Linked DNA regions of Homo sapiens. The protein of the gene in region 4 purifies or fractionates together with the protein of the main gene of each other region. This does not show direct contact. Each region holds a gene or a part of one and is shown on either strand. Other genes may lie near its edges.

The links. The genes of interacting proteins can lie anywhere in the genome.
Region 1: the proteins of SRPRB (region 4) and THEM6 purify together in Homo sapiens (affinity purification with mass spectrometry; 4 studies listed by BioGRID and IntAct, with this or other methods). This does not show direct contact.
Region 2: the proteins of SRPRB (region 4) and EMB purify together in Homo sapiens (affinity purification with mass spectrometry; 4 studies listed by BioGRID and IntAct, with this or other methods). This does not show direct contact.
Region 3: the proteins of SRPRB (region 4) and STX8 purify together in Homo sapiens (affinity purification with mass spectrometry; 4 studies listed by BioGRID and IntAct, with this or other methods). This does not show direct contact.

The regions. Positions count from the first base shown.
Region 1 is NC_000008.11:142,730,223-142,733,722, forward strand, and holds part of THEM6 (protein THEM6), read left to right. Parts: intron 1-3,500.
Region 2 is NC_000005.10:50,399,789-50,403,288, forward strand, and holds part of EMB (embigin precursor), read right to left. Parts: coding exon 3,390-3,500; intron 2,532-3,389; coding exon 2,498-2,531; intron 126-2,497; coding exon 71-125; intron 1-70. UniProt on the Homo sapiens protein: Plays a role in the outgrowth of motoneurons and in the formation of neuromuscular junctions.
Region 3 is NC_000017.11:9,544,821-9,548,320, reverse strand, and holds part of STX8 (syntaxin-8), read left to right. Parts: intron 1-3,038; coding exon 3,039-3,149; intron 3,150-3,500. UniProt on the Homo sapiens protein: Vesicle trafficking protein that functions in the early secretory pathway, possibly by mediating retrograde transport from cis-Golgi membranes to the ER.
Region 4 is NC_000003.12:133,808,815-133,812,314, reverse strand, and holds part of SRPRB (signal recognition particle receptor subunit beta), read right to left. Parts: intron 1,199-3,500; coding exon 1,116-1,198; intron 1-1,115. UniProt on the Homo sapiens protein: Component of the signal recognition particle (SRP) complex receptor (SR). Ensures, in conjunction with the SRP complex, the correct targeting of the nascent secretory proteins to the endoplasmic reticulum membrane system.

The sequences.
Region 1 (3,500 bases), on a different chromosome or scaffold from region 4:
CGTTTTTTTCTTGGCTCTGCGGATGGCAGTCTCAGTGGTTAACAGCATAAAATAGGGTTCTTCCCAGGCTGGCTCAAGTTTTTTCTTTCTGTCTTTTGATGAGGACGTGGTTTTCAGGCTGGTGCTGGTGTACTGGAAATTCTAGGGGTGGTACCTAGAACTAAAAGTCTTTTAGTTCTGAGGGAAGGGAAACTGGAAGATAAATTAAGTATATCATTTTTGCTGCATATCCTGGGGCTTGAGGCCCCATGGTGATGCCTCCCGCTCCATTCCTGCTCAGCGCCGCCCAGGGGACACTGCGGCCCTGCCTCCTCTTAAGCTCTTGGCCTTCTTGGGGCCTTCACTGCCCCTGTGCACTGTGGCCTTGGACATGAGGGGCCTTGTGACTTACCTGGCCACCTTCAGGCCTTAAGAAAGCTAAACACCATTTTATATTTGACAGTGCTTTTTGTATGATTTTATACCAGATAAGTTAAATTTTACCTTTATACTAATGTGCTATTAATGTTAAACTTAATAAAATCTTTTTTTTTTTTTTTTGAGACAGAGTCTTGCTCTGTCGCCCAGGCTGGAGTGCAGTGGCGCAATCTCAGCTCACCGCAAGCTCCGCCTCCCGGGTTCACGCCATTCTCCTGCCTCAGCCTCCTGAGTAGCTGGGACTACAGGCGCCCGCCACCATGCCCAGCTAATTTTTTGTATTTTTTAGTGGAGATGGGGTTTCACCGTGTTAGCCAGGATAGTCTCGATCTCCTGACCTCGTGATCCGCCCGCCTCAGCCTTCCAAAGTGCTGGGATTACAGGCGTGAGCCACCGTGCCCGGCCAAACTTAATAAAATCTTGTAGACATTATTTATTCAATTTTAATGTCTGACTATAGGGTAAGATTTTTATAGACTCTTTTTAAGCTTTTATAATTTTTGTTAAAGAGCGGGTTAGTGCTTTAAGAAAAATCTATTGTGCTTTTAACATCCAGTTCACAGAAAAACTGCATGATACCCCTTTAGCTTTAGCCAATATGTTTACACACAGAATTTCCTTTACAATTAACATTTTAAAACTTGCTTAAACCTTTAAAACAAAATATATTTTTTAACCTTTTAATGTAGGTAAAAATCCATATTATGTCTCCTTATAATCCTGTTATTAAAAGTATTATTTTATTTTTCTGACATACCTTGTATATAAACTGTTTTTTTTTAAATAATTTTACATTCAGGAGGCCTAATTACTTTTAAATTATACACTATTTCTTGCATAAATTCCCTTTTATAGCTTTTCTTACAACTTTCACAATCTTCAACATGTCTTAACTTTCTGCCTGCCTTTTACGCTATTTCTTTTTCTCAGTTTCACCCTCTATGTCTTCCTTTGATTTCTGTCTCTTCCAGTTTCTCTCTTATTCTTTCCCTCTGTATTTTAATCTCTTTCTGTCTCTTCTCTCTCTTCACTCTCTTCATCCCCTGCTTCCTTCTTCCCTCCTGAGTTCTCCCGCTCCTGCAGCAGCAGGGCCGGGCAATGGCACCAGCCCCTGGGCATGCACTGCCGTCAGTTTCTCTATCCACCCCCACCATTCCCCTTTTTACTTTTTTTCCCCTTTCTTCCTACACTTAGTTTCTCGGGCTGGGTGGGATTTGCATGGCTGCAGTCCGGCCCCGGCAGCCCAGAGGCTTGGCAGATGCCTGCCACAAATTGCAAGAATTATGCCCTCTCACCTCCTCTGCTCTCTTCCTGGCGCCGCTGTGCTTGCTGTTTTTGCTTTCTTTTTTTCTGACTTCCTCTCCTAGTTCTTTTTCCTGTCTGCTGGTCTTTCCTTTGTCTCTGCCAGCCACCTATGCTGCTGTTTTCCCCCCTCTCCTTCCCCTTCCCCTGGGGGACCAACCAGCGGGAGTGAAGCTTAGCCTTTTTCTTTCCCTGTGAAGAGGGGAAAAGGGAGTTTTGAATATATATATATATATATATATATATATATATATATATATATATATTTTAACTACTGGAGGTTTGTGTGAGGTTCAACCCCCTGAAATTAATGGAAGACTTAACCCCTCAAACCAGGGGTGTCTTGCCTTGCCTGCCCTGGGAGGTTGACCTGTTTCCTCCTTTCCCCCCAAAGGTCCCTTGCATACTTCCCACTTGTGTTGTCCTCTCTGGTCGCCCCCCCAAGGGAGAATTAGGCCCCTCTTAGTGTAGGCGTGCTGGTATAAATCCCACAGCAGGACCTGCCCTAAGCCATATGAGGTCACTACAGAACCGGAACCATGGAGGGGACCCACTCACTGTCCAGCAGGAGGACTTGTCACCGTCCACACAAACCACACTGCAAGCAGGGTTGTCTGTGATCATTCACACATACACACATTCAGCCCTCCAGAATTTCACCACCAAGGAAGTACTTTACCAGCTTCTGTGGCTTCTCCTTCCTTGGTCTGTGCACAGAGTTGCAGCCCTGGTATGTGAGCATCCTTTACCTTAGGTTGCTGGCCAGTTTCTTTTTTTTTTTTTTTTCTGCATTGCTGAGAGTCCGGGTTTATTCGTCACACCAGGTGGGTCTCAATTTCTCATCCCTGAGGCCACTGCAGTGAGGCAGAGGAGCGTGCTCCCTCATGAGAGAGGAACAGAGACCGCCCCCGCAGGAGAATGTAGCCCTGTACGGATTGCCACCAAATTGTTTGAAATGCTTGTTCCCCGGTGCCGTAAAGAAACAGCAGTTGAACATAAATTTAATTTACTCAGCAAGGACATTTTTACTTCCTGCAGAAAGGACACACTTGCCATCAGCTTTGCCACAAGAGTTCACCCAACAAAGGAAACAGGGTCATTTATAACCTGACGCGTCCACCCTATTGCCGTCTCTGGTTTCCATTGACTGGGATGGGACCTCACATTCTGTATCTGTCCCGATTGGCTAGCAACGTACAACTTTTTAAAAGAGGCAAAGGCAGAGGAGAACAAAGGAAGGAAGTAATTTGTGGAATGCTGAGAAAGGTAAAAACACCTTCAAATAAGGAAGAGGAACAGGCTATGACCTAATGCCCGCTTGGACCAGTATAAGCATGCCAGGGCAAATATTTAGGCTAAATTGTGGGAGCTAAGAACCTAAAGTAGTACATTGCTTTCTTTATTACTGCTAGCAGATATTTAATAATGTTAGCACAGGTCTTTGAATAAATTTTGCTTCTAAGAGAAGTTACTATTTATTCCTAATTAGATCGGTAGGAAAGTCTTTGAAGAGGAACCTCTACTTTACAACTAAACATCTAGAGGCTCGGAATGCCTCTTTCTGGGGATGCAGCCCAGCAGGCCCCAGCCTCATTTCCCAGCCCTCACTCAAAATGGAGTCGCTCTGGTTCCAGCGCCTCTGACACTGAGAGGTCATGTCAGGAATGGGGAAACTGAGGCTCAGAGGAGCTATGGCACTGCACAAAGCTACACGGCTCCCTGGTCTTCTGTTTCTGTTGAGTCATGTGAACCAAAAAGTATCGGAGATATGTCTCAGTCAA
Region 2 (3,500 bases), on a different chromosome or scaffold from region 4:
CTGATTGATAGATAGCCTATGTATATTGAATTTGACCTTTTATTTGGAATATCATTCAGAAGTAACTTACATTTTTTCTATGCCTGGGGACATTATTTTCTATACCATTGCTATCATCTGATTTCCTGCACAGAAAACAAAAAAGAAAATTACTAAATGCTTATATTATATAAAATTAAGTCAGTACATCACTGATATGGCTATCAGGTTAAAATGTAAAATGTCAATACGGACAGAATTCTTTCTTCCTAAAAATGTTTTACTTACAATGTTGAATTTATTTTATGGCATTGCTTGAAGAGGAGCTGTTACCACAAATGATAGTGACAAAGGCTTGTTGATTTTATGCACAGGGAGAATTGCTTCTCCCCAAGCATGAGTGAGGACTTGGGCGTAAAGACCATAACTTATGTGTGGTTTTGGAAACATGCAAGGTAATAGCCAATTAGGAGGTCAGCCAACATGTGTGATATTGGTGCTATACATTTGTATGCTTATTACACTGAAATAGAGGTTAAAAATGGTTCTTTTTCCACCCAAAGTTTATCAGAGCAGGACTACAAATGTGGGCCTCAGATTCTAAAGATTGACGGAAACTAAATAACCAGTATGCATAATGAATACCTTGCCCTTCAAGGTCTTGGGGGCAGGCGTCAATTATCAAATCATAATGCATATTATAAGACAGTGTTACTTACAATTAACTGATAATTAATATTTTCTAAAAAAAAAGAAATCCCACGAGTGCTTGTTTTTCTTTTGTGTGTACTCTTCAAAAGCAGAATAATGGCCACTAAGAAAACACCTCAGCAACTATTGCAAGAAATGGTTTGAGGGACATCAAGAAGCTCATTGTTCTGAATGATTTCAAGTGCCCTTGATATTTGTATACAATCTAAAGATAGTGAAATAACCTGAAGAAAAACTAAACACCTTCAGTGATCCTTATGGTGCTATACAAGATGAGCAAAATGATGTACATTGATCCAATTTTCAGAAAAATAATTCATCTTTTACACTATATATTGAATCCATTTTACATTGTTCAGAAGTGATGGTCCATTCCACACTGTTCTGGTACCATCCTTTCAGAGTGTGTTTTAAATCAGAATGCAACTTCCAAATGTGAGCTCAGAAGAATGGTTAGAGACAGTGGGAGGCAGAGCTCGGAGAATAGAGGAATCCGAGCAAGGTTCTGTTTTCAAATATGTCAATGACTGTCACGTTTGTTATATGATGCTAAGAACAAGAAAAACGCCAATACGTGGAAATAGGAAAGATTAAAAGTTCAAATCAACATAAATAAGATATCTATGTTCTCCAGAAAGAGAAGGGATTCTCTTGGGAGAGATACAATTCCCTTCCAACTATGGGAGTCTATGATTCTAAGACAACATTGCTTTTCTCTATCTGGTGTTATAGGATTTCTGATGTAGTTATTTTGTGCCCTTAACTTGGAAGCTCATATCATATTGGTTTATTTTAGCAGCCTATGTGAATGGAGTCAACATGATTATCTGAATAATGTCTACAAACATCTAAATGACAACTGTCTGCTCCACTCCTGCTATCCATGCCTGTAACACTCACTCCATAGAGCTCCTGTTGGCTGATAAACTCTAAGTGCCATTTTGTGTTAGTTATAGTTGCTCAGGCCTTCCACTTCTCAGGTTTCTTGCAGCAACTTTAATCTAGCCTCGTTTTCCTGGACTCCAGCCCTTGGCTCTATTGTTCAGGCTTTAATCCCAGTCTTGGACACCTCTGTCACTGGCCTCCATACTCAGTTCTCTGGCTTCGAGGAATTCGGAACTCCCATCTTTGCCAAACTAAATTACATCCCTGGTGATTTTATTTCCAGACCTCCTCATGCTTAACTCTAAACAAAGGCTGTGTAAGAGAACCTGTGGCACAATTTGTGTTCTCTGAATAATAATAACTAATAGAATTCTAGGCCAGTGATTTTCAACAGACAGAGGATCAAAACCATTTGTAGATGTTTTCAAGAAATAACAGATGCCATAGCCCCAACCCAAGAGGTTCTGATCCAGGAGATTCAGCAAGGTCTGAGCAACTGTATTTTTTTAAAGAGGCTCTTAAGTGATCAAAAATTGCCAGGCTTGAGAACTATTGCTTTAAAAATAATAATATTAAATACTTCCTGATGGTTACTGCACACCTTCTGTGCACCATAACCTATGCTATGCATTTACACATATATAATATTCATTCCATCCAACAACCTCATATGGTGAGTACTATTATTAAATCCATTTTGTAGAGAAGAAAGCTGAAGTACAGAGAAGTGCAGGTAGTAAGTGATGAAGAAGAATTCTCACGCAGGTAGGCAGACTTGGAAAGCCACTTTCCACCACCACGTGGACATATACAGAAAATACTCCTCTGCCTTTTCTCCCCCTAACTGCAAACATTTCATTCAATTTTATGTTTCCCTGTATTTTACCCAAGTGAAAATTAATCTGTAAAAAATAATACTTACAGCTGTTCAATCTGCTCAAATTCTTTCCCCTCATCTGTGTAACAAAAGAAGAATTTGACTGTGAAGTTGGTTTGTCACTTTTATGGAACATATATGCTCAATTAAACCTCCTTCCTAAGTAAGTAAGTACTATGCTGTTTCTCCTGTTTGGAATGAAGGAGAGACATGCTACCTTAAACACCTACACCTCCTTTATCTGCACTACAGACCTTATCTGCATTTCTGATCAAACATAGTTTAGTGGCCTGGTATTTTCAAAAACATGACTGCTTAGTTTGTCATTATTTAAATCATTAAAAATTTAGTATAAAATCAGGAAAGAATACAGGACGTAAGGTCAATTTTCTAGAGGATTACTGCTTTATCAACCTGTAACCCATCAGGCACAGGCCGCAAAAATAGGACATGACAGGATGGTCTCTCTTTAATGAGAACTCTGGAATGGTTAATAAAATATTTTTTTAAATGATAATCTAAGTGAAAGAAAAATTGTTTCTTTTAGACTTTTTATATTAAGCTATCATAGATTTTTCTAATATTCCAGTGCCAGAATACATATCACCTAATTGGTACTTAGGTACCAGTAGCACCAAAAAAAAAAAAAAAAAAAAAAAGAGGGGGGTGGTGGGGGAAGAGAAAGAAAAAAGGCATTTTTAATACTAAGTTTTTTCAGGAATTGAAACAGGAAGACCATGGGTATATGTTTCCAGCTCACTGTCACCATTGTTGTAAACCTAAATACTGCTCCAAATAAGAAAATGAAGATTTTCCCCAAAAATCCTAAAGTCATTGCAATGTATCAAATCATAATCCATATCATAAGTAAATGATACTTATAATTAACTGATAATACTTTCTAAAAAAAACAAAAAACAAAAAAAAGAAATCCCACCTGAGTGCTTCTTTTTCTTTTGTGTGTACTTTTCACAAAGCAGAATGGTGGCCACTAAAAGAATCACCTCAGCCACTATTACAAGAAATGGTTTGAGGGGCACCAAATAGC
Region 3 (3,500 bases), on a different chromosome or scaffold from region 4:
CCAGCCTGGACAACATGGTGAAACCCCATCTCTACTGAAAACACAAAAATTAGCTGGGCATGGTGGCATGTGCATGTAATCCCAGCTACTTGGGAGGCTGAGGCAGGAGAATTGCTTAAACTCTGGAGCTGGAGGTTGCAGTGAGCCAAGATCATGCCACTGCACTCCAGGCTGGGCGACAGAGGGAGACACTGTCTCAAAAAATAATAATAATAATAAAGAAAGAATGTATAAGGTCAGGTGAAGTGGCTCATGCTTGTAATCCCAGCACTTTGGGAGGCAGGAGGGTCACTTTAGATTAGGAGTTTGAGACCAGCCTGGCCAACATGGTGAAATCCTGTCTCTCAAAAAAACCCACAAAAATTAGCTGGGTGTGGTGGTGGACACCTGTAATCCCTGCTACTTGGGGAGCTGAGAGGAGAATTGCTTGAACCCAGGTAGTGGAGGTTGCAGTGAGCCAAGGTTGCAACACTGCATTTCAGCCTGGGATGATAGAGCAAGACTCCATCTTAACAAAACAAAACAAAAAAAAAAAAAAGAAAAGAAAAGAAAAGGAAAGAATGTATGAGAGTGTCTGGTTCCTTGTCCCTTTCCAAAACTGTCTTCTCAGTTTCCTAATCTGATAGGTGGAAGTGGTATCTTGTTTTAGTGTGTATTTCTTTTCTTTTCTTTTCTTTTTTCTTTTTTTTTTTTGAGACGGAGTCTTGCTCTGTCACCCAGGCTGGAGTGCAGTGGCACAGTCTCGGCTCACTGCAACCTCCGCCTCCCGGGTTCAAGTGATTCTCCTGCCTCAGCCTCCTGCGTAGCTGCGATTGTGCGCCACCATGCCCAGCTAATTTTTGTGTTTTTAGTAGAGATGGGGTTTCACCATATTGGTCAGGCTGGTCTCGAACTCCTGACCTCGTGATCCACCTGCCTTGACCTGCTGGGATTACAGGCGTAAGCCACCACACCTGGCCAGATATATTTTAAAAGTGTTTGTTAGCTTTCTCCACTCATTCATTTTATGGCAGAAGTTGTTTCCAAACATATCCTTTACTGTGTTTCTTTTTTCTTTTTTTTTTTTTTTTTTTTGAGACAGAGTCTCGCTCTTTCACCAGGCTGGAGCGCAGTGGCGCGATCTCGGCTCACTGCAACCTCCGCCTCCCGGGTTCAAGCGATTTTCCTGCCTCAGCCTCCCGAGTAGCTGGGACTACAGGCGCACGCCACCACGCCTGGCTAGTTTTTATATTTTTAGTAGAGACGGGGTTTTACCGTGTTTGCCAGGATGGTTTCCATCTCTTGACCTTGTGATCCGCCCACTTCAGCCTCCCAGAGTGCTGGGATTACAGGCGTTGAGCCACCGCGTCCAGCCCTTCTGTGTTTCTTAACATACCACACACATAGACACAGTTCAGCCTAAAAACAAACAAACAAAAACTTGTGTCTGGGCGCACTGGCTCACACCTGTAATCCCAGCACTTTGGGAGGCTGAGGTGAACGGATCATGAGGTCAAGAGATCGAGACCATCCTGGCCAACATGGTGAAAACCTGTCTCTACCAAAAATACAAAAAATTAGCTGCGCGTGGTGGCACGTGCCTGTAGTCCCAGCTACTCAGGAGGCTGAGGCAGGAGAATCGCTTGAACCCGGGTGGCGGAGGTTGCAGTGAGCCGAGATCGCGCCACTGCACTCCAGCCTGTAGACAGAACAAGGCTCCGTCTCCAAAAAAAAAAAAAAAAAAAAAAAACCACTTTTGTAGTTTGCATCAAGAAAGCTAGTATATAAAACTTTGTACTTAGTCCAAGGGAAGTGGCGCCGGTTGTTGACAGACGCCACTTCCCTTTTTGCTTCATGCGCACGCGCCGCATTCTCGTCCACCTATTGGTGAATTGTAGGTTTCTTTCCAAAGACTACATTTCCCAGAAGGATGGTTGTTTGGTTTTTTTTTTTTAACCATCACTTATGAATTGTTGTGGAAAAGATGTTAGAGACTATTTAGTGTTACATATAAAGAAAGAGAGATCCCAAAAGGTGAAATAACTGGTTCAAGAGCATAGATAGTGGAATAGGGCTACAACTCTGCCTCTGGGGCTCCTAGTCTAGCGTGTTTGCTAGATTCACACATTAAAATGATTCTCTTTGTAATTTTCTTTACAAATCATGCAATGTATTTAAATAGTGAACTGATGGTAACAATTTATAGAGCAAATCTGTTGCATAAAGTAGCACTTTATAAATATCCTAGGTGTGTTAATAGATATTAACATGGAAGAAAGAGAGCAATATAGAGAACTTCTCTCCCCCAGCGCCCCCACTTTTTTAAACAGAGCATCTTAGGGTATTAATATGTAGGAAAATGCCCTGGAACACTGACACACACATATAACTCAAAACCTAAGGAATCACTGAGCCAGGTTGCACCATTGGCAGGAGAAGTCATTTAAATTTGGTCACTGGGGCTGGGCGTGGTGACTCACGCCTTGTAATTCCAGCACTTTGGGAGGCCAAGGCAGGCAGATCACCTGAGGTCATGAGTTCGAGACCAGCCTGGCCAGCATGGCAAAAACCCGTCTCTAATAAAAATACAAAACTTAGCCGGTTGTGGTGGTGCACGTCTGTAAGCCCAGCTACTCGGGAGGCTGAGGCAGGAGAACTGCTTGAACCCGGGAGGCAGAGGTTGCAGTGGGCCGAGATCGCGCCATTGCACTCCAGCCTGGGCGACAGAGCGAGACTCTGTCTCAAAAATAAGTAAATAAGTTTGGTCACGGGGAGGAAAGTAATATTTACCTGGTATATTTCTCAATGAAAAACTTGTGTCATGATCCACGTCAGTGTTTATAAGTGCCTCTGCGATGGTCCTGCCAAGGTCCTTTACCTGACGGCCTGGTGAAGGTGAAGGTCAGAGCAGGAAAAACGCAAGAGTGGTGCGCATCCCTTCTGGGTAGTAGTGATTACAGTCTGTAAAAGCCACAACTGACTTGAAGAGCTAACTTAATAATGTAATAGTTAAAACGAGGTCATTTATTCACCATTGAACCTTAACAAGATATCTGCAGAACACAGCTTGAAGGGGACCGAAGACAGAACCTCTTGGATGATCTTGTAACTCGAGAGAGACTACTTCTGGCATCCTTTAAGAATGAGGGTGCCGAACCAGATCTAATCAGGTAGGATGTTTTTATTTACAGGGATTACTTGGTGGGCGAAGACTTCTTTGCAGATACTACAGCTGTTTCCTGAATGGCTTACTTTAGGAATTAATCAAAATCTATTCTATTCATTTATGGTGTTTGACTATAATTTTCTACTCAATTTAGTTTTCGTTAATTTTTGTTTGTTTGTTTGAGACAGAGTCTCGCTCTGTCACCCAGGCTGGAGTGCAGTGGCGTGATCTTGGCTCTCTGCAAGCTCCACCTCCCAGGTTTCCACCATTCTACTGCCTCAGCCTCCCAAGTAGTTGGGATTACAGGCGCCCACCGCCACCGTGCCCGACTAATTTTTTGTATTTTTAGTAGAGA
Region 4 (3,500 bases):
ATTGTTCATCACCACCATCTTGTGGGCAAAGATGCAATAATGAAATTTCAGTCTAGACATCTTCAATAAAAGGCAAAGAATCTACTACTTCATTCCATCAAAACTAAAATGCTGCCAATTAAAGACATTATTTTAGGGACCGCTAAGAGAAAATACTGCCAATTAAACTATGACACCATCAACTATAAGATATATTCTAAATTCAGAGATATTAAAATGTGTCTTCAAATCAGTGAAATGTGGCATACTGATTTTCCTCTTCAGTTCTTATTAATGTTAGAGACCAAAAAAGAAGCATCTGAAACTGCAGCATAAGACTTTTTAGGGAAGAACTTAAGAGTCAGTAACACCAGAGCACACACTAAAAGAAATATGGAAATATTGTTCTGTACTTCTTGAAACATCAATTTTACGTAATTTGAGAATATATATGGGCCAGGTGCAGTGGCTCACGCCTGTAATTCCAGCACTTTGGGAGGCTGAGGCCAGCGGATCATGAGGTCAGGAGTTCGAGACAAGCCTGGCCAACATGGTGAAACCCCATCTCTACTAAAATTATGAAAAATTAGCAGGGTGTGGTGGTGCGTGCCTGTAATCCCAGCTACTCAGGAGGCTGAGGCAGGAGAATCACTTGAACCCAGGAGGTGGAGGTTGCAGTGAGCCGAGATCACACCACTGCACTCCAGCCAGGACAACAGAGTGAGACTCCATCTCAAAAAAAAAAAACAAAAAAACACTATATATATAAATGATGTTGGCATTTAAAAACTGCTAGGATTCATCCCAGCTTTAAAATTCTTTTTTCAGATTTTAATAGTCATATACATTATTAAATTCACCTTCAGAATAAATGCAAACATTTAGTAACAATGACAAGAAGGGTTAACATTTCCTAAACACTAAAAAACACTTTTTAAGCATTTTAATCCCATAAAATCCTCATCATCCAGGTGAAGGTGGACTTGCAACCCAGAACTGGCTGACCCCAAGGTCACCTCAAGGTCTACCACAGGATACCATGCTGCCTCCCAAACACCACCAGAGCAAATCACATGAGTGGCTTTGATATACAGATACAGACCTAGACAAGCCCACTTCACTTCTTTCCTTCTTACCTGGCTGAAGACTTAAACCGCTCTAAGAACTGAAGCCTCAAACTCTCATGGCCGGGAAGGTCAATCAAGGTCAGACTATTGCCCTGGGGATGGCAGCAATAACATTAACGTTTCAATACAGTTCCACGTTCACAATATAAACCTTTAGTATCATATATTGGCTACCAAACTGGTACCTAATTAACCAAACAAATGTTCACAAAGCATCTTCTACTCATAAAACACTAGTCAACGTTCTGGGGATGTAACAGTGGCCAAAGACACGGTTCCTGATCTGGCAAAATTTATGAGAAAGGTGAACATAATGTAAAATTACACATAAATATAAAATGAGAACACTGATAAATGTTTTGAGGGTACAGGAAAAACCTGTCTGGGGGAGTCAGGGAAGCATGATCTACCTGAGGCTTGGGAGATAAACCAGTGTGAGTATAGCAAAGTAGGAGTACTGTATGAGTATAAGCAAAAATGTGAAAACAGTAACAAGTACTCATAAACTAATAATGTAATATAAGAACTTACAATTTTTCATAGAGCATATTACTCTTACTGGGATCTCCAATCTTTATAACAAAGTACACTTTTATCATTTCCACCCTTAATCTAATTATTTAAATATTTATCTTCCAGACATATAATTTACTTGTTCCAACTCCGTCAGCATTTGTGTCAATTCCTGAGCCCCTACTGAGCAAATCTACGATGCACCCTAATAAGTTCTATTCACCATGCCAGGCTGCCATTCCTGAATATAAGGTCAAGGCCTGGAATGGTGAATAAAGTTTATATTCAGTGTAAACGTGGCTGTGCTCAACAATAAGACTCTTAGATGTGGCCTGGTACATGCAGCAGACCATCATTTCTTACATGTTCTACATTATCCACAGCCAACCATACCCACAGTTCAGAAGCAGGCAATCAGTATCCTGCACAGATTTAACACAATTCCAGCTGGGTTTATTATGACCTTACCTTTCACATAGCCTGTGCATTTCTTTATAGACAAATATGTTTTTTATTAGTCCCTCTCTTTTTTTTTTAAGTACTGTTAAGAGTCTGGAGATCCCAGGTTGGGACTTAACTGCTCCATTTCAAAAGCAGCACTATACCACACACCCTAAGCAATTTGGAAGATACATTACTAGGTATATTACTATCTAAAGAGATTAGATCGAAAACGTAAGGGGGTAGGAGAAAGAGTGAAGAGGGAAGGGAAAAATGCTCTATATATTCAGTAGAAATATTGATAGAATAGAAATATAGTAGAAATATAGAATAACAGAAGCCACATATGTAATTTTAAATATTCCAGTAACCATAATAAAAAAGTAAAAAGAAATTGGTAAAATTAATTTTAAGTTATTTAATCTAATATATCCAAAATATTATCTTTTAAAATGTAATAAAAAAAGAAATTATTAATGATACTTTACGTTCTTTTTTTCCATACTAAGTCTTCAAGATCTGGTGTGTACTTCACACTTACAGCATGCCTCAATTTGGACTAGTCCTAGTTTAGGTGCTCAACAGTCACATGTGGCCAGTGGCTACATATTAGAAGGTACAGATTTAAAGCATATCCTGGAGTATCCTAAGTTAAAAATCTAGTGCAGGTACTAGATGATCTTGCAAACCTGGAATTTCAAAATCTGAATCCTTGGGAGTTTAAAAAGGTCTGGGCCACAAAGAGTGTCATCATTGAAAAAAAAAACAAAGATATCGCTAAGATATTTAAAAACATGTCCCTTTATTTTTCTTTACAATCTTTAATTCTGGAGGCATGAGAAAGGGGAAAGAAGACAAAGAGAAGAAGAAAAGGTCTCAAACCACAATTCTAATTCATCCATCTATCCATCCACATCCTCCAACGAGCCCTCACTCCACTCACTCACCGAAACTTATTACATGGCTGGGTGCAGTGGCTCACGCCTGTAATCCCAGCAATTTGGGAAGCTGAGGTGGGCGGATCACTTGAGGTCAGGAGTTCAAGACCAGCCTGGCCAACATGGTGAAACCCCATCTCTACTAAAAATACAAAAATTAGCCAGGCATGGTGGTGGGCGCCTGTAATCCCAGCTACTCAGGAGGCTGAGGCAGGAGAATCGCTTCAACTCGGGAGGCAGAGGTTGCAGTGAGCCAAGATCATGCCACTGCACTCCAGCCTGGGCAACAGAGTGAGACTCCTGTCTCAAAAACAAACAAACAAACTTATGCATTACAATCGGTTTGGTAGTCACTGTCTACATTCTGAAGTTACAGAGGTATGTAAAATGTCTTTCCCATGATTCCTTATATTTTTTTTTTTTTTTTGAGACTTAGTCTCGCTCTATTGCCCAGGCTGGAGTGCAGTGGCGCAATCTTGGCTCACTGCCACCTCCACCTCCC